3 linked regions of the Homo sapiens genome follow. The protein of the gene in region 2 interacts with the protein of the main gene of each other region in a pairwise test. Each region holds a gene or a part of one and is shown on either strand. Other genes may lie near its edges.

Region 1 (7,489 bases), on a different chromosome or scaffold from region 2:
CCACTCACGTTTCTTCATTTCCAAGAAACTGCTCTCAAGGAACCAGGGGCCACCATGAAACATTTCACAGAGCGTTTGTGTTTGTTTGATCGATTTTAATTATTTGAAAAATGGTGTTTTCTATCCCTTTCGTCACGGAAGATCAAAAGGGTAAAGGAAAAAAAAATTCCACTAAAGAGACTAATATGAGAGCCAACATATCCGACAATGACTTCTAAAATATATTTAAGAAAAGGCACCTTTCTGGGGAAAGGAGTCAGAATTTCAGATCTTTCCATTGGAATCATAATGCTGATGTGCTACTTAAATATTTTTAAAACTTTGTACTGATAGGAATGTTTAGGCCGGGCACGGTGGCTCACACCTGTAATCCCAGCACTTTGGGAGGCCAAGGTGAGAGGATTACTTGAACCCAGAAGTTCGAGACCAGTCTGGGCAACATAGTGAGCCCCTACCTCTATTATAATAATTTTAAAAGGGAATAATGTTTATTTAACGATGCTCTGAGACCAGATTAATATTTTGTAAAGTTTGTACTTTGATGTGCCAGCTTGATGTGCCTCCTGTGAGGCTTTTGCTTTTTAACTCCCTTTGCTTTTTAACTGCCTTCTGGATGAAGTGTTCTTTTTGTTTCATGCTTTGACTTGACAGCCTAATGCTCAGGACAAGGTTTTTCTTGCTCCTTTCGAGAAAAGGAGCTGGGTCCATGGGAGCCACTTCCGGGTCTCCCTGTTTGCAGACCCCACAGTATTCCCCCTCAGGTGGCCATCCTCTTGGGACAGCCAGCAGTGCTCCCAGGGGCGGCTGTGTCTGTGAAATGGGAGCTGTGATCCCAGTCTCTGAGTGCCTTAAGACCACCAGCACTCCAAACTTGGTCAAGTACTTTCAAATTGGCAAGCTCATTCCCTCCTCCCAGACACCCTGTGAAGCGGACATTCATTGTCTACGTTTAAAAGGTTCTGAGAATAAGGGGCTTCCCTACGGGTACACAGTTTGAGGCCGAATTAGGACTAAACCTTCTTTTACTCTGGGTCTGATGGCTTCCACCTGTGCTCAATCAAAGCCACCTCCATCTGGGATTTTTGCCCAAAACCTTTTTGCTGGTGATTTCCCTCCAGAAGTAAGCAGTTTTTTGAGCTCTGTCTCAAATAACATTTGGCCAATATGTATTTCCAAAAACGTTTAATTTTATTTATTTGTTAAGTTTCTTTACTGACTACTAACTGAAAGGAGACGCCAAATGGGGCTTTAAGGAATCACATATGCAACTGAAATAGTATGCAAATGTTTTTCTTGAAATTTTCCATTCCTTTCCCACATGTAAGGAAGAGAAAACAACAAATTGCAGACATTGCTGTTCTGTTGCCTCAGGTTCCCTGAGTAAGAAAGAAGGAAGATGGTTTTCTAAAGGCAGGCTTGGGAAATACTGTCAGTGGGGGGCTCATTGATTTAGTCGGGGAATAACTAATTCTAAAATGCATCAACAAGGTGAAGCTACAGGATATACCAAGCTGTGGCACACCTGCCTAAACACATACCTGAGTTCTGAAATGTCCAGGTCAAAGATTTATAACGGAGGTATAGTTACATTAAAATTAAATTAACTAAGAGGTCTATTACTGGATAAATATTTCAAAAATAAAACTTTCCATTTCAAAGTAGCCACCATCACCGCTGATGATAAAATCCTGTTTTCTGGTCACAATTCCCCTTTTAAATCACCTGGTAATTGTGACCAAAGGAAGAAGGCCTGATTCATCCATGCAGTCCCCACGCAGGGAAAACCTGAGGCCCACGACTCAGTTTTCCATGACAAATCTGGTGTGTGCCGCCCCCCAACCCTGGCTCTTTGTCATTAAAGAACATTCATTTTTGTTGAACCGTTTATAGTTCTCGTTTTTATATTTTCACTTATTCTAAATCAGCGTATCTTGAAGAGACAATAACAGAATTTTCCAAAATGTTTTTATAAAATTCCTCTTAAGGGATTTTCACAACCTAGTAATAATCACATAACACAGCTAAAGCACAAAATTCCAACATTAATTCTTTAAAACATAAAGAGAAAAGGCACATTGAACATCAATGATGACAGCAGCATTAAAGAAAGAGAGCTGGGCCAGCCACAAAAATATTAGAAAAATTCTAATTTTAAAAATTAGCATCGCATTGAAGGTAAATCATATTCTCTATCATCATATGCACTGACATGTTTTAAAATGCATCAGTGTACTCACGTCTTTTTATCTAATTTCTAGTTTTTTCTAGTTTGTCTTGACAAATGACTAGCAACCAGAAAAAAAGTCAGAAAATCCTTCTTACATCAGAAATGATCACACCTGAAGCTGTCCTTTCCCTTCACTTGCTTTCCGGAATCCTTCCCACTTTTACTGTTTGCTTTATTTGGTGGCTTGGGGTGCCTTTGAAAATCTCCTTTGTTCTTTTTCGGCTTAGTCAAAAATAGAAACCTCTTCAATAAAAGAACAAATTCAAAAGTAAACTGGAGATAATTTCGATGTTATCATTTTAAGGCTGTAATTTGGATATTTTAACATAAGGAGTCGAGTAACAAATGAAATACACAATGTAAATATGTATTTGCAGGGATTATCTCCTAGGTGATATATTGTCACGTAATTAGTATTCTTCAGTAGGATATCATATATCTCAGTAATTGCAAATAAAACAGAAAATTACATTAAGCAAATCCATGTTTGTGTATGGAAATGTTGTAGACACGTCTATTTCCACTCCATTTTCACATTTAATCATTGCTAAATCTCTACAATGTATTTTTCTAATGTCTCACTCTGTAACAGTATTCCATATGTTTGGCAATCTTTCCCTCATAGCAAGAAACTTTCAATTAATTTGGCTGCAAGTTTTGTCTCTATTAAGCTATTCCCAGAACCAATCTCTTAACCCCCTAACATCATAATTAAAGCAAATTATACTTTAAAGACATGTGGGGGTGAGGTACTGCAGTTAAACATCTGTGGCTAGACCCAGACTGACAGAGGGAACAGGGTGGGGAGATCTGAGAAAAGAAATCCACCAAAATTACAGCAGGAGGTAGGACTCACCTCCCAAGACGACTTTCCAGTCAGCCGCTCATACAGTTAACCCCAAAGTCCATTTTCCAAGGGAGAATCCATTTCATTTTCACCAATTAAACCCAACCTGTCCACCTACCCCCAAAAGCAATGCCTCAAAATGGTTGACTTGTGCTCCATTTTGATCAGGGATCCTATAAAATTGAGGACTAAATAAGGTAAAACCTCACAGTGGCATCTAATTTTAGTTGATTTCTTCCTACCACAGACAATAAGAGCCCAGCTCCAGGGCGGCTTCTGTCCTATACCCAGCACCTGTGCTTCCCTCCCAGGGCGCCTAGAAAGAGAGATGGCTCCACCACGGTGCAGCCTGCTGGACACACGACCGCCCTCCTCCCCGCCCCCCCCGCCGAGTAAAACCCCTGTGTCGTGAATTCCTGCACTATCCCATGTTTCTCCCTGCAAAGATTTTGCAAAGGAAGGAAGGGATAGACAGAAGAAATTGGGGGAACAGGGGAAGGAGAAGGAGGGAGGAAGAAAGAGAAATTCAAGCCACCAGACCGCGATGGAATTTTACTAAAAGCAGTGGACCCTATTTGCCCACATCTCTGTTATGGGCATTGTTAACACTCATTCCAGGAAGGGAGAAAGGCAAAACATTGTTACAAAAGTAAAATCGCCTCAACGGCACCCCAGCCAGCCCTCTCCAAATTCAGCCGTCTATGCAGCCATGTATTTGGTGCTGCCACAGCAAACTGCTGCTTCAGTCTGTCTCCAACCGTGGGTTTCTCAAAGTGGGTAATATTACTCCTTTTGTCCTCTCTTCAGCTAAACTGGTTCCAAGTCCCTATGCGTCCCAAAGCTCCTCAGCTCTATTCCTGAAAAATTTCCTTAATTGAAAGAAAAGGCACAAGGTCCCTTTATCCGATTCCACCTACCCGCCCCCCATCCACAACTCTTCAATAGGAAGAGGACACAAGTTTCCCAGCCAGAGAAATCCACTAAATACCCACCATTCCCGTCCAAAACAAGAAGCTCAAAGCAGATTTCATAACAAGGTAATAGAAAGAACAGTTAATTCCTGTTAACTAATTTTCCATCCCTGCAGGACTGCAAGCCCCATCCTCCTTCCCCCGGCTCCTCCTCTCCTCCCAGCACTGGGGTCTCTGGCTTCAGTCTACTAATGTGGATGCTAAGTAATCACTAATTGACTGTAACGCAGAGTGAAAGGGCATTAAAATCCGAGGCAACTGGGAAGTTAGGACAATGCAAATATTTAGGACTTGAGGCTGTCTACACCTGGCCAGCGGGGTCATCGGGTCACTGTTCAAAATACAAGATGCCCCTGTGGCCCAAGTTTTTGTCTACTCAATGGAAAGAAATTGCTTTGCTGGTTTCCCGGCTCTCCCACCCCCACCCCACCTCTAGGAGCACTCGATTTTTAAAAATGGACCCTGGTATTTGCAGCCCTGTAGGCGGTCTCCGAGACGTCTTGAGGGCTCGCGTTACCCTAATCCTCACAGCATTTAGTCTACATTCTTGCCTTAACCCCCCTTTGTTTTTGGCGTGTCAAGAGGCAGGTGCAGATACACCTAGCTTCGGTCGTCCTTCCTTCAACTTCCTGCTGCTCCCGGTTTTATCCCTTCACGGCTTTTCTAGTAATTCATTTCCTTTTTCATTAGTTTCACCCTTCGGATCTCTTTAAAAGACACGTTTGCCCCACTGTCTAAAAATAATAAGGTCCCATCCTGCACAAAGCAAACCCCCTGAGACACAGGGATGCGCTCGGTCCCAGTCCAGCCGCGGCCTCTCGTGCGGTGAGTGCACCCGGTGGCCCGCGCCACCTCGCCTTCCCCGGCGGCGCACAGTGCCGCCAACTCCCTTCCCTGGTCGATTTTAATTGACATCCTCAGCCGCCTAGGTAGAGACTCTGTCTCTCTGGAGCCTGACACGTTTCCAGCGCTCGTCAAGGTCCACTAAGCTGCGGAACCGAGTGGGGAGCCGAGGCTCGAACACCCGCAGAACGCGCGGGCCGGGCACACCCGCCGGCGGCCTCCCCGCTCCGAAGAGGAGGAGCCCCTTCGAAAATGGGAGCATCGCTTTCCCAGGGTTAAACAGTCACATTAGACTCGAGCCGCCAGGGTTGGGGTTTAATTTTGTCATTCCAAATGCTTGGAACGAAATGGGTCTGGAGAGGAAGAGAGGTTTTCACCCGGCCTCCTCCTAATGGGCGCGCCGTCCGCACTCGCGCCTGCCGCGCCTATCCTTGCTGGAAAAGTCCCTGCCACCACTCTAAAGGGCAGCAAAGGGGTCCCAGGCCTGGCTAATTCCAGCTCAGTCGGACCTCTGGGCTACCTGAGATAATAAGCTCCGAAAACGGGCGCGAACCTCTGGGCGGATGGACTGCAAGGGCCAAGGCGCAGGAACCTCTATTGCAGCGCACCGGGGAGAGAGAGGCGGTCCCTCCCTTGTCCCCTTCTGGGCTACGACCTTTACCCACCGCTGCGGGACGCAGTAAGCGCAAAGCCGGCTACCCGCGAAGGGCCGGCCGCCCTGTCCACATCTACCTCCACCGGCGAGTCCCCCAAAACCCAGAGCACGCCCGGGATTCCCGGGCGAGTGCCCAGGATCGTGAGCCGCCCATGGGTGCGCAGCAAACGCTCATTTAAAGAATTCATCGTCTGTTCCCCGGGCCACCCAGGCCGGCATCTGCCCGCGGGGCGGAGGAGCCCTGCCCCGGTCGTAGCGAGGTCATGTGGGTCGCGCTCCCAGACCCTAGGACGCCACTCCTGCTCAGCCCTGCGTAGCCCCGCCTAGCTCTGGTTTTCCACGAGCCCGGACCTCGGCCAAGAGAGGAAATAAACTTGAGTTAGGTCCTGCTTCTTCTCAGTCCCGACTTTACGACTTCCCGGGACACTGCGGACTGCTCAATGCAGACCTTTGCCCCTCACCTGCTGCACCTGCGTGCTCCGTGTCCGGCTTTAACAGTTAATTCCGCATGCGGAGCGCACTGGGACAGCGGCTTTCCAAGCTTCCCTCCGTGCTAACGGCCCTCTCAGATAACAAGGCCCTGGAAAGGAGGAGGCCGGAGCCCTCTCGCCCCTTGGGAGTCCTCAGCCATCCGCTGTCCCAAGCGGGGCGCTGCCGCGCTTACCCGGGTTTCTCCAAACTCCCTTCTTTGTGGTACACAGCTCTGGCCAGGGGCTGGAACGGGATCCTAGCAGTTAGGACATCGGAACCCCCAACCCATCAGGCCCGAATCGGCCGGCGGGGACAGCTGACCTCATCTGTAAAAATTGTCTCCTGCCTGAGAATATATTCTCGCGACGCAGGGAGGGAGGTCTATGGTGCCTACAGCTGCTATATCGGAATGTTCGGAATATGATAGAATCTCAATCTATTATATATATATATATATATATATATATATATATATATATATATATATATATAATTTGTGTGTGTTGTGTGTGTCTGTTTCTCGCACTAGGAGACAAGGCAGGAATGGAAAGAAGAGCGAACAGCACCAGCGTTTGAGTGAACTCCTGTCTTGGACAGTGAATCCATCTCACCCCCTTAAGAAATGTCCTGCAAGAAGGACAGTCAACAACCCCGGGGACTCGGATCTGCAACTCGACCTGCGCTGGGACATTACCCCACGCACCCCGGAGGAGCCCCAGGAGAGGAAGTCCCAGGGAAAACCTTTACCCCGACCCTACCAAACACAAAATAAAATACCTTTTTCCTACAGCTTCGGGGTTCGCCAGAGCTTGCCGGAAGCATTTTAGGAGACAAGGAGGGGGACAGAGACCCCCAGGCCTGCATTCCAATTACCACCCCCAGCGGAGACCCCGCGGGGCTCCTCCTTCTCCCGTGCGGGCTGCCCTCTCTCCCGCCAGCGATCCGGGCGGCGGGCTTCCGTCGTCCTTTCCCTCGGTGCCTGGGGAGACTACATGGCAGATGGGTCAAAACCGAGGCGGATAAAACGCCCCACCTTCCTATATGCCTCGCTCTTTTCCGCGTCTCCTCAGAGGGCATGGCCGGCCAGCAGGGCCCCGACGCGTGGAGGGACTGCTGAGGTCCGCGGGGAGAGTTTTGGAGGCGGCTCGGAAGGCTCTCGCCGTACCCGTACCCAACACGGCCCCGGGTCAGGCGCTGTGAGGATTCGGATCTCGACGTCCCTACAGCCCGGAGGGAGGTGGCGGGGACGAGCTGTCGGTGCGGGCCGTAGGGACAGCTGTAGGGCTGTCGGAGCGACGAGGCCCGCACCGGGGGCCGCGCGACCAAGGCGCGGTAAAAAACCAGGAGGGCTACGGCGCGAACTGCTAAGTCCGCACGGGAGCCTGCGGGGGCGGGAGGCCGGGACAGAGTGGCGAGGAAGAGGCCAAGTCTGGAGCAAGACCAGAGATGAGAGAGAAATTATTACATCATTTGGA
Region 2 (7,489 bases):
TTAATCCTTCAGATCTTAGCGTAACAATCCCTTCCTCAGGGATGCCTTCCCTGAGCCCCCAGTCAAATTTGGATCTCCTTTATACATTCTCCTGGTCTCCCTCTCGCACTTTTTTCTTGGTAGGCTTCATCATACTCAATAAGGATGTATTTGATTTTTTTTTTTTTTTTGAGACGGAGTCTCGCTCTGTCGCCCAGGCTGGAGTGCAGTGGCGCGATCTCGGCTCACTGCAAGCTCCGCCTCCCGGGTTCATGCCATTCTCCTGCCTCAGCCTCCCGAGTAGCTGGAACCACAGGTGCCCGACACCACACCCGGCTAATTTTTTTTTTTTTTTTTGAGACAGAGTCTCGGTCTGTCCCCCAGGCTGGAGTGCAGTGGCGCGATCTGGGCTCACTGCAAGCTCTGCCTCCCGGGTTCACGCCATTCTTCTGCCTCAGCCTCCCGAGTAGCTGGGACTACAGGTGACTGCCACCACGCCCGGCTAATTTTTTGTATTTTTAGTAGAGACAGAGTTTCACTGTGTTAGCCATGATGGTCTCGATCTCCTGACCTTGTGATCTGCCTGCCTTGGCCTCCCAAAGTGCTGGGATTACAGGTGTGAGCCACCGCGCCTGGCAATTTTTTTTTTTTTTGTATTTTTAGTAGAGACGGGGTTTCAATGTGTTAGGCAGGATGGTCTCGATCTCCTGACCTCATGATCTGCCCACCTCGGCCTCCCAAAGTGCTGGGATTACAGGCGTGAGCCACCACGCCCGGCTGATTTTTTTTTAAAGAGAGTCTTGCTCTGTCACCCAAGCCGGAGTGCAGTAGCATGATCATAGTTCACTGTAGCCTCACACTCCTGGGCTCAAGTGATCCTCCCACCTCAGCCTCCTGAGTAGCTAGGAGTACAGGTGCACACAACCATACCCTGCTAATTTTTAAATTTTTTGTAGAGATAGGTTTTCACAATGTTGCCCAGGCTGACCTTGAACTCCTGGGCCCAAGCGATCCTCTGGCCTCAGCCTCCCAAAAACTCACACCTGGGATTACAGGTGTGAGCCAGCACGCCCTGCCAGGATGCGTCTGAATTGTGTATCTGTATGATCCTTTAATTCACATGCGTCTCCCCCAGCCGGAGTGTACTTTGTGCGGGATGGGCCTGGGTGTGTATTGATGACCACTGGATGTCCTGGCTCGTAGTGGGTCCTCAGTGTGGACGTGTTGAGGAGGTGAATGCAGAGCCTGTGCCGTGGCAGGTGGGGATGGGTGGGGACTGGGATTCATTTGGCTTATGAGCAGTGCTAGCTCTTCCCTCCCTCCCCTCATATGAGTGCTTCCTGTGTGCACTCATGGCTTCTCACTCTTGATTTCATTTGATCTTCTGATGACCCAGAGAGGTTGGCATGGTCCTCCCCGATTTACAGATGAGGCGGCGGAGGCTTTGATGGACGGAGTTCCTTGCTCTCAAGTGGCAGAGTCAGGAGCGCGACCAGGCCTCCCACTTCCAAAGCCTGTGCTGTAAACTCTCACTTGCATTTCCCAGCATTTGCCCTGGGAAGGATTTTAATGGGTTTCTGTGGTCAAGCGAGTGTGGGAAACTGGCTTACTCAGCTCTGCTCACCACCAGCCTTTCAGAGCACACGAATGTGCCTGGGACCTTGGGCAGGGGTTCCCTACCCAGCTGCCACTACATTCCGATGCTGGAGTCCCACACCAGAGACTCTGACGAACCCGGTTGGGGTGAGGCCTGAGTGTCAGGCCTCAGAAAGCTCCCAGGTGGCTCTCGCTGCAGCTAGGGGTGAGAACTGCATCGTTTCCCCTCACTCCTTCCTCCTGGGGAGCCCCGTTTTTCAGGGGGCCTGTCATGAGAAACGGCTTCCTCAGTCCTTTCTCTTTATTGGCCCCACCTCCTCTCTCCATTCCTTCTCTTTGGCCCAAAAGGGTTCCTCTGAACCAGACAGGCCTCCCGTTTCCTGAGGGCGTCTGTGCAGTACTTGCACAGTGTTGACTGCATTTAGTCCTCAGGACAGCCCTCCCGATTCACAGAGGAGGGACCCTGTGCTTGGTAGAGGAAGGGATTTCGAGGTGGTTCAGCAAGACTCAAAGGCAAAATTAGAACTCAGGCTTCTGGCCCCAGGGCTTCTGGGTAGCGCAGGCCGCCTTTCCCACCAGCTTCAGAGCTCCTTGAGGACAGGGATGGTGGCTCCTTCATCTCTGTCCCCACAGCACAGGTGCCCAGGAGCCACAGCCAGTGTGTAGGGCTTTTGTGACCTCCTATCCTGCCTGGTACGGTGGTTATTTGTGGCCATTCTCCTGGGCTGTCACAGGTTGTGAACTGGAGGACCGGCCAGAGGGGCCAGGAAGGCCTTTGTTCTCTAAGGAGGAGAAGCCCTTGGAGGAAGCAGCCGTGGCTTTTCTACCTCAGAGGCTTTGAAGACAAGGGAAGCCTTTGGGCAAAGAGAGGATTCCCCTGAGTGCATGTAGTAAAGAGCTAAGGCGCTGTCACCCATTGTCTGAGACCAGGCCCGAGGCGCCCCGAGAATAGCCCTGCTGCGCCAGGCCTCCATCCACCACACCCCGAGAGTGCACTTGGGCAGCCCCTTATCTGAGGAGGGTGTGGGGCGGGCGGAGCGGCTGTCAGATAGGTCCCTGCCCGGAACACCGTCCTGAGCATCTGTGGCTGGGAGCTCCAGCGAGGCCCTCCTGGGAACTGGGGCTCCATCCCGAAGGCAGTGGGAGCCATAGCCGGGTTTAAACTGAGGTGCGCCTGGCTCAGATTTACATTCTAGAAATGTCTCCCTGGCCACAGGAATGGACTGGATGGAGATTGGCCTGGGAAGGGCCCCGCTGTTGCAGGAGCTTAAGGCAGAGGCTGTGGTGGGCTCAACCTTCCGGGCTGGGCCAGGGGACAGGATGGGGAGTTCTGAGTGGGCAGAGGCAGGATCTGGACTTGCTCAGGATGCCTTGCTGGACCAGGGAGGAGAGTTGAGGGCAACAGCAGGGAAGTCCTGCAGGCTTCTCGCACCCACCCCTCACTCACCCATCTGTGTGCCAGCACTTCTGTCTGTGTGCTTTTCTTAACCAGGGCTGCTCCTTCCCTGGGTTCCCCACCACACCCCTGGGCCTGGCACAGAGTGGCTCAGCAGGTGGGCGTTGAACAGGGTCAGCCTCTGCCCAGGAGCTAGCAGGTGCCTAGAGAACAATCGAGGGGTAGGGCAGACACAAGAGACAGGAAGGGGTGGAGCACATGGCCCCCACCCGCCTCCCTCCCAGTTCAGGGCAGAATGTTCTCTTAAAGGCAAAATTAGAACTCAGGCTTCTGGCCCCAGGGCTTCTGGGTAGCACAGGCCGCCTTTCCCACCAGCTTCAGAGCTCCTTGAGGACAGGGATGGTGGCTCCTTCATCTCTGTCCCCACAGCACAGGTGCCCAGGAGCCACAGCCAGTGTGTAGGGCTTTTGTGACCTCCTATCCTGCCTGGTACGGTGGTTATTTGTGGCCATTCTCCTGGGCTGTCACAGGTTGTGAACTGGAGGACCGGCCAGAGGGGCCAGGAAGGCCTTTGTTCTCTAAGGAGGAGAAGCCCTTGGAGGAAGCAGCCGTGGCTTTTCTACCTCAGAGGCTTTGAAGACAAGGGAAGCCTTTGGGCAAAGAGAGGATTCCCCTGAGTGCATGTAGTAAAGAGCTAAGGCGCTGTCACCCATTGTCTGAGACCAGGAGCTCCCAAGTGTCTAAAGGGGCTTTGGTTTGCTTTTTCCGTTCATCCTCCTTGGAGCTCAACCCCTTGGCTTCAGTCTGGACGTGTGAATCTTCCTTTAGCTCAGGACATTTTTCTCCTGTGATCTCTCTGATGATTTCTTCTCCTGCATCGTTCCCTGTATGTCCTGTAGGCACCACAGGGAATATTAGACTTCCTGCATCTCTTCCAAGCATCCTGTAGCTTTTCTCTCATTTTTTCCTCCCTCCTGTTTTTCTTCTGGGAGGTGTTATCTGTCTTACAGGTTTCTCTGTTATTCAGTTCCCTTGTTAAAAAGTGTTGATTTTGGCCACCATATTTGTTCATTTCCAGGAACTCTGCTTTGTGTCTGATTGATCCTTCCTGTGTGGTGGATGTCATTAGCACCGACACTGATAAGACTTCCCTTCCACCTTTCCTTTCATCCGGTCTGTGTGTAAACTCAGCAGAGGCAGGCGTGGGGAGCCCCAGAAATGCACCGGCTCTGGGCTGGGCTCTGGCAGATTCATATGAATGGGAGAGTCTCTGTCTGGCCAGCCCTTCTGTTTTGTTTTGTTTTGTTTTGTTTTGTTTTGTTTTGTGACTGAGTCTCGCTCTGTCACCCAGGCTGGAATGTGTTGGTGTGATCTCAGCTCACTGAAACCTCTGCCTCCCGGGTTCAAGCGATCCTGGTGGCTCAGCCTCCTGAATAGCTGGGATTATAGGCGTGCGCCACCACGCCCGGCTAATTTTTGTATTTTCAGTAGAGACAGGGTTTTGCCATGTTGGCCAGGCTGGTCTCAAACTCCTAACCTCAAGTGATCCTCCCGCCTTGGCTTCCCAAAGTGCTGGGATTACAGGCAAGAGCCCCCGCGCCCAGCCCCTTCTGTTTTTAAGAAAGATAAACCCCTAACCTCTGAAGAGCTTTTGCAGTGACATGGGCATGGACACCACCAGGTCTCGCTGTGATGAGGTGGGTGGAGGCTTCTCCCTTCCTCCTCCGCCCTTTCTTCCCTGCCTCCTGCTCCTCCTCGGCCCCTCCCTTTTGCTGTGATTCCCCACAGCCCTTTTCAGTTCAGCCAGGATCTGAATGGCCCCTGTCCAGGGCTGGGTACAGTGGGGCCAGCAGTCACACAGCCGTGTATCCAGCTGTTGCCACCTGCCAGTCACACCACCACTGTGAGCAGGTACTGCCATTAGCCCCATGGCACATGTGGGGAAACTGAGGCACGGGATGGTTGGCTAATCTGCCCAAGGTCACAGAGCCAGTGAGTGGCGGGGCCGAGATTCAAACCCAGGCAGTGTGAAGTTCATGAAGGGAAAAGCTGAACTTGCTGGAACCCCTTCAGACTCCACGCTCCTGGCCTGGCTGAAGGACCCTGCTGACTCTCTCCCCCAGCTCACCCCTCCGGGGGCTGCCGTCCTGGCTGTGACCTGGGCCTGGTGTGCCTTCACAGCCCACTCCTGCTGTTGAACTCCCCCTCTTCCCTCAGGCTCAGCACAGTCGGGGTGCTTCCTAGGGGTGGGAGTGCACCCTCGCAGCACACCTGCCTCCCTCTTGGCAGTCGCTGTGAGCATAGTGAAGCCGGCCATTGCACCTTTGCCCATTCCCCGGGTGAAACGCCAGCTCCAGCAGGGCAGGGACTGAGTCTGTGGCCCACTGTGGCTGGCATTCAGGCAACGTGGCCTGCGTTGACCCTCAGGTTGGCTGCACTTGCCTGCAGGGGAAAATGCCCCCTCTGCAGCCCACTCTGAGGGCCCCTTCCCTTCCCCGCCTCTCACCCCTGCCTTGGCACATGCCCTTTGCTTGGAATACCTGCCACCTCCGGCCCCCTCCTGGAGGGCAGGCTCTGCACTGCACTGCCCGGGCCCCTTGCACTCAGTCTCCCAGCCCTTCCCAGATTGTCAGTTGGCATCATTTGGGCACCTGTCAACCCTGCCAGGCAAGGTAGGTGAGCTCCTGGAGGACACTAGGAAATGTCTGTGGCATGAATGAGGGAGGGACATAAAGGAGCCCTTAGCGAGTGGGGACACAGACGTGTTCCACCAGAGTGCAGCCTGGCCCTGCCTCTGGGAGCTTTGCTGTGGACACAGACGTGTTCCCTCAGAGTGCAGCCTGGGCCCTGCCTCCAGGAGCTTCGCTGTGGGAGGAGGTGACACGGGAGCCGCAGCTACCAGGCAGCGAGCTCTCGCCCGGGCTGTTCTAGGTGCTGGCTACAGGAGCCCACAGAACAGACCCCCTTCCTTCCTGGGGTTCTCCTCCAGCCAAGGGCTTCATCCCTCATTGGCTGGGGCCGTCTCCTTGTTTGACAGATGTGGAGGCTGTGAATGCAATAAGTAAGGCTCCCGGAACTGCCTTGAAGTACTCAGGTTGCCTTTACCAACCCTTACTCCTTGTGAGGATCCTGGAGGTAGCTGCCATTAATATTCCCCTCCTTTGGGCTGGACGCAGTGGCTCACACCTGTAGTCCCAGCTACTTGGGAGGCAGAGGTAGGAGGATCACCTGAACCCAGGAGGTAGAGGCTGCAGTGAGCCAAGATCGTGCCATTGCACTCCAGCCTGGGTGACAGAATGAGACCCTATCTCAAAAACAAACAAAATGACCCTCTTTTTTACATGAGGAAACTGAGGCACAGGTATTCAGCCATTGGCCCAGGTCCCACACTGGTAAGTGCTGGGGCGGATCTGGACCCAGGCGGTGGCTCTGCACCTGCGCCGCTGGTAGTGCTGCCATGAAGGACCCACGGGCAGGGGTCTCTTCCCACTCTGTCTCTCACACACACCTGCCCGTCTCCTGCAGTCATCGGCCCCTTCCATGAGCCTCTGCTGTGTGGCCGGCCCTGCTGTGCCTGAGGACACTGGAGGAAAGCAGATGGTGACACCAGAGGGAGACAGTGCAACAGGAAGCCGTGTCGTTGTCACCCATGAGGGCGAGGCCTGGCAAGGGGCCAGGCAGAGGAAGGGCCACCTTGGCTTCAGATATGGGCGACCTCAGCTCAGGCCCCCCCGCCATTCCCAGCGCTCCTCACCTCCGTGAGGCCCTCAACAGCCATGGCTGTCACCCCACCCACCCTCCTATCTGGACCTGCTGGGGTGTGAAAGACAGTCCCGTGCTGAGGGTGCCTTGGATGGGTTCTTCTTAACCTCAGAGCCCCTGTTTCCACCTGGAATTACAGCCTTCTGTGAGGCTGGAAAGGTAAAACAAGAAGGCTGTAGAAAACGCCTGCCACACAGTATGCCGGTCCTGGAATAACATTTTGTTGTGACATTGATGAGGAAAAAATAATGATTCCCGGGACCATTGTCTGGGTGGTGGTTGTGGGTTCTCCCTGTGCTGGTGCAAGTTCCTCTGGGCTCTCCTTTCCTTGTGCATCCTTGGGATGTGTCCGCTGGGTGAGCTCCCGGGTCTCCGTGGGCCCAGTGTGAGTGAGTGTGGGCCCGTGTGCGCCCTGTGATGGGATGGCGTTCTGTCCAGGGTCCATTCCTGCTTTTGGCCCTGCCAGGACGGGCTCTGGCCACCCAGGACCCTGAGCTGGAGGAAGCGAGTAAATGTCTTACTGGTTTTTTGTTTTTTATTTATTTTTTAAGACAGGGTCAGGGCCGGGCGCGGTGGCTCACGCCTATAATCCCAGCACTTTGGGAGGCCGAGGTGGGTGAATCACGAGGTCAGGAGATCAAGACCATCCTGGCTAACATGGTGAAACCCCGTCCCTGCTAAAAATACAAAAAAATTAGCTGGGCGTGGTGGCGGGTGCCTATAGTGCCAGCTACTCAGGAGGCTGAGGCAGGAGAA
Region 3 (7,489 bases), on a different chromosome or scaffold from region 2:
ATTTAGTGATTTGCCAAATTAGTTAAGTGACAGGAGTGAAGCAGCTGTCCATACGCATTACCCAAAGGTGTGCAGGCCCCAAAACAACACAGTTCAGCCCCTGCCCTTCAACCCTGGCCCTTAGGAATTTATGGGACAATAAGGATGGGAAGGGGATAGTCCCTTGATCTTCTCAAACTTTTCAATCACTTGGAGAGTTCTGGTTTCCTTCAGAAAAGACCAATCCTAAAATGGCCCTTCTCTGAGATGTCAGCTGATGAGACTAACCAACAATTATATTACTATTGCTAGCAAGCAGTTACTATTAAGCATGTACTAGACACAAGGCACTAAATTATGCACTTTACAAACATTCTATTTAATTCAATTATTTAATTCGAATTCTCCCTATAAGGTTAAGCACTGTGAGTCCCATTATACAGAGGATCAAGTTAGACCCAGAGGAGGTAACCTTCTTGTACATGTCTCCTGGGGACACATGGGAACTCGTTTCTTCATAATATATTCCTGGGGATAAAACTGCTGGGCCACCATATGTGTCTTCACTTTACTGCGTAATGCCAAATTGTTTTCCAAAGCAGTGGTACCAATTTTTACAGCAAGAGCAATGTTAATAGAAAATGTTTATTGACCACTTCAATGTTTATTTTTAAGTACTCAGTAAAGTATTGTCCATTTTTCCATTGCGTTGCCTGCCATTTTCCTAACTGGTTTGTGGGAATTTATTATATATACACAATGTATGTCCTTGATTAGTTAGAGGTGTAATGAATATTTTCTACTTCATCATTTATCTTTCTTAATTGAAATATGGCCAAATTTATTAGTCTTTTCCTTTAGGATTAGTATACTAGTTTTAAGAAACACCTCCCTACACTGAGATCACAAAAACAATCGTATTATTTCCTCAAAGCTTTATAGCTTTGCATTATTATTGTATAGCTCTGTAGTATTTTCTCAAAGCTTTATAGCTTTCCTTTCACATTTAGGTCTGATGTGGATACCTGGAGTTTATTTTTGCACATGGTGTGACCAGGTAGCTCATTGTCTCAGCACCATTATTTAAAAAGACCATTACTGCCCACTGGTCTGCAGAGCCACCTCTGTCTTAAATCAGACACAGATCTGTTTTTTGGTTCTCTCCATCTGTTTCTCTGGCCCATCTGTTTATCCTTGTGCCAACATCACACAGCCATAATTTCTATAGCTGTAAAAAAGAGAGGATTTCTGATAGGTTTCTCTTCAAGAATGTCTTGGCAATTTTTGGCCCTTTGAGGGTCATATAAATTTTAGAATCTGTGAAGTTGCATAAAAATAATCATGTTGAGATTTAGATTAGTACAATATTGTCTCTATAGATCAATTTGGGGAAAACTGAAAGGCTTAAATACTGACTTTACTAATCCACGAACATAATATATCACACCAGTTACTTAATGTTCTTTGATAGCTCTCAACGAAGTATATTTTTCCCTATCAGAGTTTTGCGTATCTTTTATTAATTTCTTCCTAGTTATCTTATTTTTTATATTATTGTAAACATATTTTTAAATTAAAAAAACCCAAAACAGGGTCCCCCTCTGTCACCCAGGCTGCAGTGCAGTAGTAGCACAATCATAGCTCACTGCAGCCTCCTGTGCTCAAGTGATCCTCCCACCACCTCAGCCTCCCAAGTAGCTGGGACTACAAGCATGCACCACCACACCTGGCTAATTTGTTTTAACTTTTTGTAGAGACAGGCTGGACTATGTTGTGCAAGCTGGTCTGAAACTCCTTGGCTCAAACGATCCTCCTGCCTCAGCCTCCCAAAGTGCTGGGATTACAGGTGTAAAACTCCCTGCCTATATTTTATTTTCTATTTGCTAGTGATACATAGAAATACAACTGGTTTTGCATCTTGATTTTGGATTCAGCATTCACCTAAACTTATTAATACTTATGATTTAACTGTAGAATCTTTATTTTCTACACATAGAAATCTCAGTGCAAAAATATGCAACCATATTATCTACACATGCCAGTTTTGCTTCCCTTCTTTCCAAACCTTACATCTTTTATTTATAATTATTGGCTTACTTCATTGACAAGGCTATCCCACACAAAACTGAATAGAGTTGGTCATAATGCGCATTCCTGTCTTTTTCTTGATCTCAATAAGAAAGCTTTCAATGTTTTGCCATTAAATGTGATATTTGCTGTAAGTTTTTTTGCTAGATATACTTAATCAAACTAATGAAATTCCTTCCATTTCTAGTTTCCTGTTTTTTTAAACACAAAAAGATGGTAAATTTTATCAAATGTTTTCTCACTGAGATAATTATATTAAGCAACACAGAATTAGGTTTCGTTTTCTTATCCAGTCAGATCAACATTTTCATTTAACTGGAGTATTTAACACATAATTACCGATATGTTTGCATTTAAATCTGCCACCTTGTTCTGAGCTATTTGTCTTGCTTATTCTATTTTTCTTTTTCTTCCTTTCCTTTTTTAAAATTTACTACACATTTTTTATTCCATTTTCCCCTTCTGTGCATCTAGTGGTTCACCTAGGAAATATGACATGTAAGAAGTGTGAATTTGAATGCATCTAAACAATATTATTTTGTTTGCTTTTGGTATTAATTTTAACCCTAAATATGCTTAGATTACAAATAGAACTACCACTCAAGGGGCCTGCCTGTAGCCCAAGGAGCACATGAATGAGCAGAGATGGGCAGTAGCAGGGGCCCACAACAGATCTGGAGCATCCCCCAGCCCAAGCTCAGGAGAGCAAACAAGCTTCGATGTTAGCATCACATTATAACATTAAGATTTTTTATTTATTTATTTTATATTTTTTACTTTTTTGAGATAGAGTCTCATTCTTCTTGTCCAGGCTAGAGTGCAGTGGCGCAATCTCGGCTCACTGCAACCTCTGTCTCCCAGATTCAAGCAATTCTCTTGCCTCAGCCTCCCAAGTAGCTAGGATTACAAGTGCCTGCCGCCATGCCCAACTAATTTTTGTATTTTTAGTAGAGACAGGGTTTCACCATGTTGGCCAGGCTGGTCTTGAACTCCTGATCTCAGGTGATCCGCCCGCCTCGGCATCCCAAAATGCTGGGATTACAGGCATGAGCCACCGCGTCCAGCCTACGTTAAAGATTAGTTATAAACACACACAAAATAGGTTTTTATTCATACTAAAGGATCCAGAATGTGATCATATAGACTACATGATTTCCCAAAAATGACAAGTTGATTCCTTAAGCAACAAATTTCAATTGCATATTGAAGATCTTAAGCACTTTACAAAATCACGTTACCCACAATTTTCATTAACAGGACAGGTGCTCTGTGGTATAGCTGGAAGCAGGAAGGTAGGGGCAAGGGAAAGAATGAATTTCATTGCACAAGGTCTTCATAGCCTCTTTGCAAGGACTTACCAAAGTGCTAGAGTTGCATGTGAAACCAGCTCTGTCTGGCCTGAGCCAGGTTTTCTGTCTTGTGAGACTTGATACACACTGTTGCTCTGCCTGGTTCCCACCTGCTTCCCCCAACTAACCCAACATCACCTTGAAAACTCGGCTCTAGTACCCCTCATTTCCTCCAGGAAGCCCCCCGATCTTGCCAGCTCAGGTTCCATTCCAGGGCATCACAGCACCCTGGCCACCTCTGTCTCAGCACTCACTATCCAGGGTAATAGCTTCTCTTTCCTGAGGGCAGGTCTTAACCTCCAGGTCCTCTCTACCTTGCATAGTGGTGCTCGGTACACTTCTGCAGAAGGAATGCTTGCTCTGCAAGGTGAGAGACTTTGTTTTGTCCCCTGCATGTCCAAGTCCCTGCACAAAGTAGATGTTCAGTTAACCACCTGCCCAGTCAATGAGTACATGGAATGCCTGTGTTTTTTCTGCTATATACCTTGCCTCCTGGACTGAAGGTTAGGAGAGCTGGTTTGGAGCCTTGTCTTTGTCACTATCCACTGGTGAGTTGGTAAAAAGTTCCTTCTCTCTTCGGCTATCAGGCTCCTCACCTTAAAAATGAAAGCAGAGAAGTCTCTACAGTCTCCCAAATTTCACGATTTGTTTTCAGGCAGATTGATGTAGCAGCCAAGAGTTCTGGCACCTGGCCGACCAGGTTCAAATCCCAGCACCTCTACCTAGTAGCAGGTGATCTTGAACATGTTCCTTCACTTCTCTGCACCTCCATTTCCTCATCTGGATAAGAGGGATAAAAAATACTACCAAGCTCAAAGGACTGCTGTGAGGACTCCACAAATCAATCCCTATAAGATGCTTACATGAGAGTGGCAGGCACATGCTGTGCATTCGGCATAGCTCTTAAGTGCCACCTACATGCCAGGTAACCTAACTGTCCTGCTGGATATGGTCCAGGTTTCTTAAATGAACAGTAAAAATGCATGGAGCTTTCTTATGCAACTCCAAATCAGTCTCCCAGATCTGTCTTTCCCCTTTGTGTTCAGACCTCCTTCCAAAGCAAGTGTCTGCCATGCAGCCCACTGCTGGAGGCCATCACTCAGGAGCCTCAGTGTGCAGGGTCTAGTGAGACACCCCCCACTCCCAATACCACTGGGCACAGGCCTGGACAAGCAAGCAAGCAACAATGTCCTCTGGTGCAACCAAAGAGCTGGTAAGTCCTCACCTAGAAGCTGGGGATCAGGATGGGGGTGAGTGGTTAGGAAATGGGGAAAAGCATTGGAAGGGGGAAGACCTGGAATGTGGCTTAAGAGGTATCGAGAGTACCCTTGGGTTAGATCCAGCCAGATGGACTCTAAGATGTTGACGCCAGAAGGGGAGAGAGGGCTGGAGCTGGGACAGGGAGAGGCTGGTGGCAAAGAATGGTCATCATGCCAGTCCTGCAAGATGGATAAGACAAGGGTCTGCACAAGGCAGCTCAGCACAGGGCTGCTGTAGAAGATGCAAGCTGGAGAGTGCTGGACTGGGAGGCAGGAAACCTGAGTTCTGATCCTAGAACTTTATTTATTTATTTATGTAAGATACAGGGTCTCACACTGTTGCCCAGGCTGGATGCAGTGGCCCAGTCATAGCTCACTGCACCCTCGAATGCCTGGCCTCAAGCAATCCTCCCATCTCAGCCCCTCGAGTAGCTGGGACTACAGGTATGTGCCACCACACCCGGCTAATTTTTTTCTTCTTTGGTGCAGGATCTTGAACTACTGGCCTCAAGCAATCCTCCTGCCTCAGCCTCCCCAAGCACTGGGATTACAGGCATGAAACACACTGGCCTTGATCCACTTCTCATTACTTAGATGTAACCACCTCCTCACAAGATGTAACCATTCCATCACAATAGAATGACGCACGGTCTGTGTCTGAGGATGTTTTCATTTAATGGCAACCTAAACCAAACCTAAGACAATCCTACTCCAAGCCACGACATAAACAGCGCTGACACATGCTTTCAGTTCACAACTTCATCATCAGCATTCGTATTTTCTTTTTTTCTTTCTTTTTTTTTTTTTTGAGACAGTGTCTTGCTCTGTCGTACAGGCTGGAGGGCAGTGGCACGATCTCGGCTCACTGCAACCTCCATCTCCCGGGTTTAAGCGATTCTCCTGCCTCAGCCTCCCAAGTAGCTGGGACTACAGGTACCTGCCACCATGCCTGGTTAATTTTTGCATTTTTAGTAGAGATGGGGTTTCACCATACTGGCCAGGCTGGTCTCGAACTCCTGACCTCGTGATCTGCCTGCCTCGGCCTCCCAAAGTGCTGGGATTACAGGCATGAGCCACCACACCCGGCCACCATTCATATTTTCTTAACAGCTTACTTGATATCAAGACATGACTTTCATCGTCTTGTCCTGATAAGGAAAGAAGAGAAATACACATAGCAGGTAAAGAATGTGCCGGACCCAAATGAAGGCCAATCCCGTAACAAGAAAGCTCCAGAGCTCTTCAGAGAAATTTGGGCGGATTAAGTAGTCACTTGGAACAGAGTAATGGGAGAATCAGAAGTATCTTGGCCAGGAGTAGAGATTTTGTTCCAGCAAAATAAAACTTTAGAATTAATATTTTAAGTGGAATGTTATTGATTATAGTTTTGTATTCAGTCTGTTCACTTCCTTTTGTTTTATTGCTTATATGTAGCATGAGCAAGTGCTATTTATACCAGGTTTGCATTTGTATGCATGTAAATAATAACATAATTTAACTCTCACTGGCTAGACTATTTTTTCCTTTAAGAAGAATGCATACTTGTTCAAGTTTGAGAAACGCCAGACTAGGATTTCTGAAGGTCCTTCCAAGCACTGTTCCTTGCTACAGCTCTGCTGTAAACATGATGCCAGGCTCCCAAATCTCATCAGTCCTTCCATCATGCGCCACTGCACCTACGATAAAAATCCCAGCTCCTAAGCAGGGCCCTCTGTGTCCTGTGGGATCTGTCCTGCAGTTCCTCATCCCCACGTGAACCATCTCTCAGTCACTGCACACCCCCACGCTGTGCCCCGCCGCCACACCCCCGCCACACACACACACTGCTCGCCGCCCCTCAATCAGCTCCTCTCAGCGAAATCACTTCCTTGGAGACTCCTTCCCACACCCCACCAAACAAGAGCAGCCTCCCCCTTACAATCTCCCACCACATCCTGTACTGTCCTTCACAGGAATGTTGAGCTGAAACTATGTAATTATTAGTGAGATGATACAACCATGCCCACAAAGGCAAGGTCTAGGACTGTCCGGTCCTGTCCTGGACACAGTACTGGCACACAACCAGTACCTTCTGCCAGCCCTGACAATGGTCAACAGCCACTCCAACCCCTAACACACAGTCAGCTGCCCGCTGAAGTCTGAGATGAGAGAAACCTCTCTCAAAGTCCAGGACCAGTGTGTGAACTGAACAAGGCTCCAGGTGATCTTTAGAGCTACTTGCTCTGTGACTTTGGACAAGTTTCTTACCCTCTCTATGATTCTATAATTGTCTATAAAATGGGGATAATAGCACCTAACTGTAGCAAGCTGAATAATTATTTCCCCGAAAAGATGTCCCCATTCTAATCCCCAGAATCTTGTATGGCAAAAGGGACTGTGCAGATGATTAAATTAAGGATCTTGCTGTGGGGAGGTTATCCTGGATTACCTGGGTGGGCCCAATGTCATCACAGGGTCCTTATGAGAGGGAGGTAGTAGAACTGGTCAAAGAAGTCAAAGTGACAACAGATGCAGAACGGAATGACACACTTCAGAGCTGGAAGAAGGGGCCTCTGCAAGCTGGAGAAGGCAAGGAAATAAATTCTCCCTGGAGCCTCCAAAAGGAATGTAGCCCTGCAGACACCTCGATTTTAGGACTTCCAACCTCCAGAACCATAAGAGAACAAACTTGTGCTATTTTAAACCACCACATTTATTACGCAGTAACAGGAAACACAGGACCTGAAAATACGTTTTTGTGAGCATTAAATTTGTTGACGTGTGAACACTGAAAAGCATCTAGCACACAGTGAGCACTGAAATGTGTTAGCTGGG

Evidence for each region. Proteins that work in one complex are often made in the same cells at the same time.
Region 1: the proteins of TRAPPC6A (region 2) and LHX4 interact in binary tests that used the Homo sapiens proteins (3 or more experiments, as listed by UniProt).
Region 3: the proteins of TRAPPC6A (region 2) and TRIM35 interact in binary tests that used the Homo sapiens proteins (3 or more experiments, as listed by UniProt).

Annotation. Positions count from the first base shown.
Region 1 is NC_000001.11:180,233,187-180,240,675, reverse strand, and holds part of LHX4 (LIM/homeobox protein Lhx4), read right to left. Parts: intron 1-7,489. UniProt on the Homo sapiens protein: May play a critical role in the development of respiratory control mechanisms and in the normal growth and maturation of the lung. Binds preferentially to methylated DNA.
Region 2 is NC_000019.10:45,168,108-45,175,596, reverse strand, and holds part of TRAPPC6A (trafficking protein particle complex subunit 6A), read left to right. Parts: intron 1-7,489. UniProt on the Homo sapiens protein: May play a role in vesicular transport during the biogenesis of melanosomes.
Region 3 is NC_000008.11:27,300,861-27,308,349, forward strand, and holds part of TRIM35 (E3 ubiquitin-protein ligase TRIM35), read right to left. Parts: intron 3,984-7,489; exon of another isoform or gene 3,901-3,983; intron 1-3,900. UniProt on the Homo sapiens protein: E3 ubiquitin-protein ligase that participates in multiple biological processes including cell death, glucose metabolism, and in particular, the innate immune response.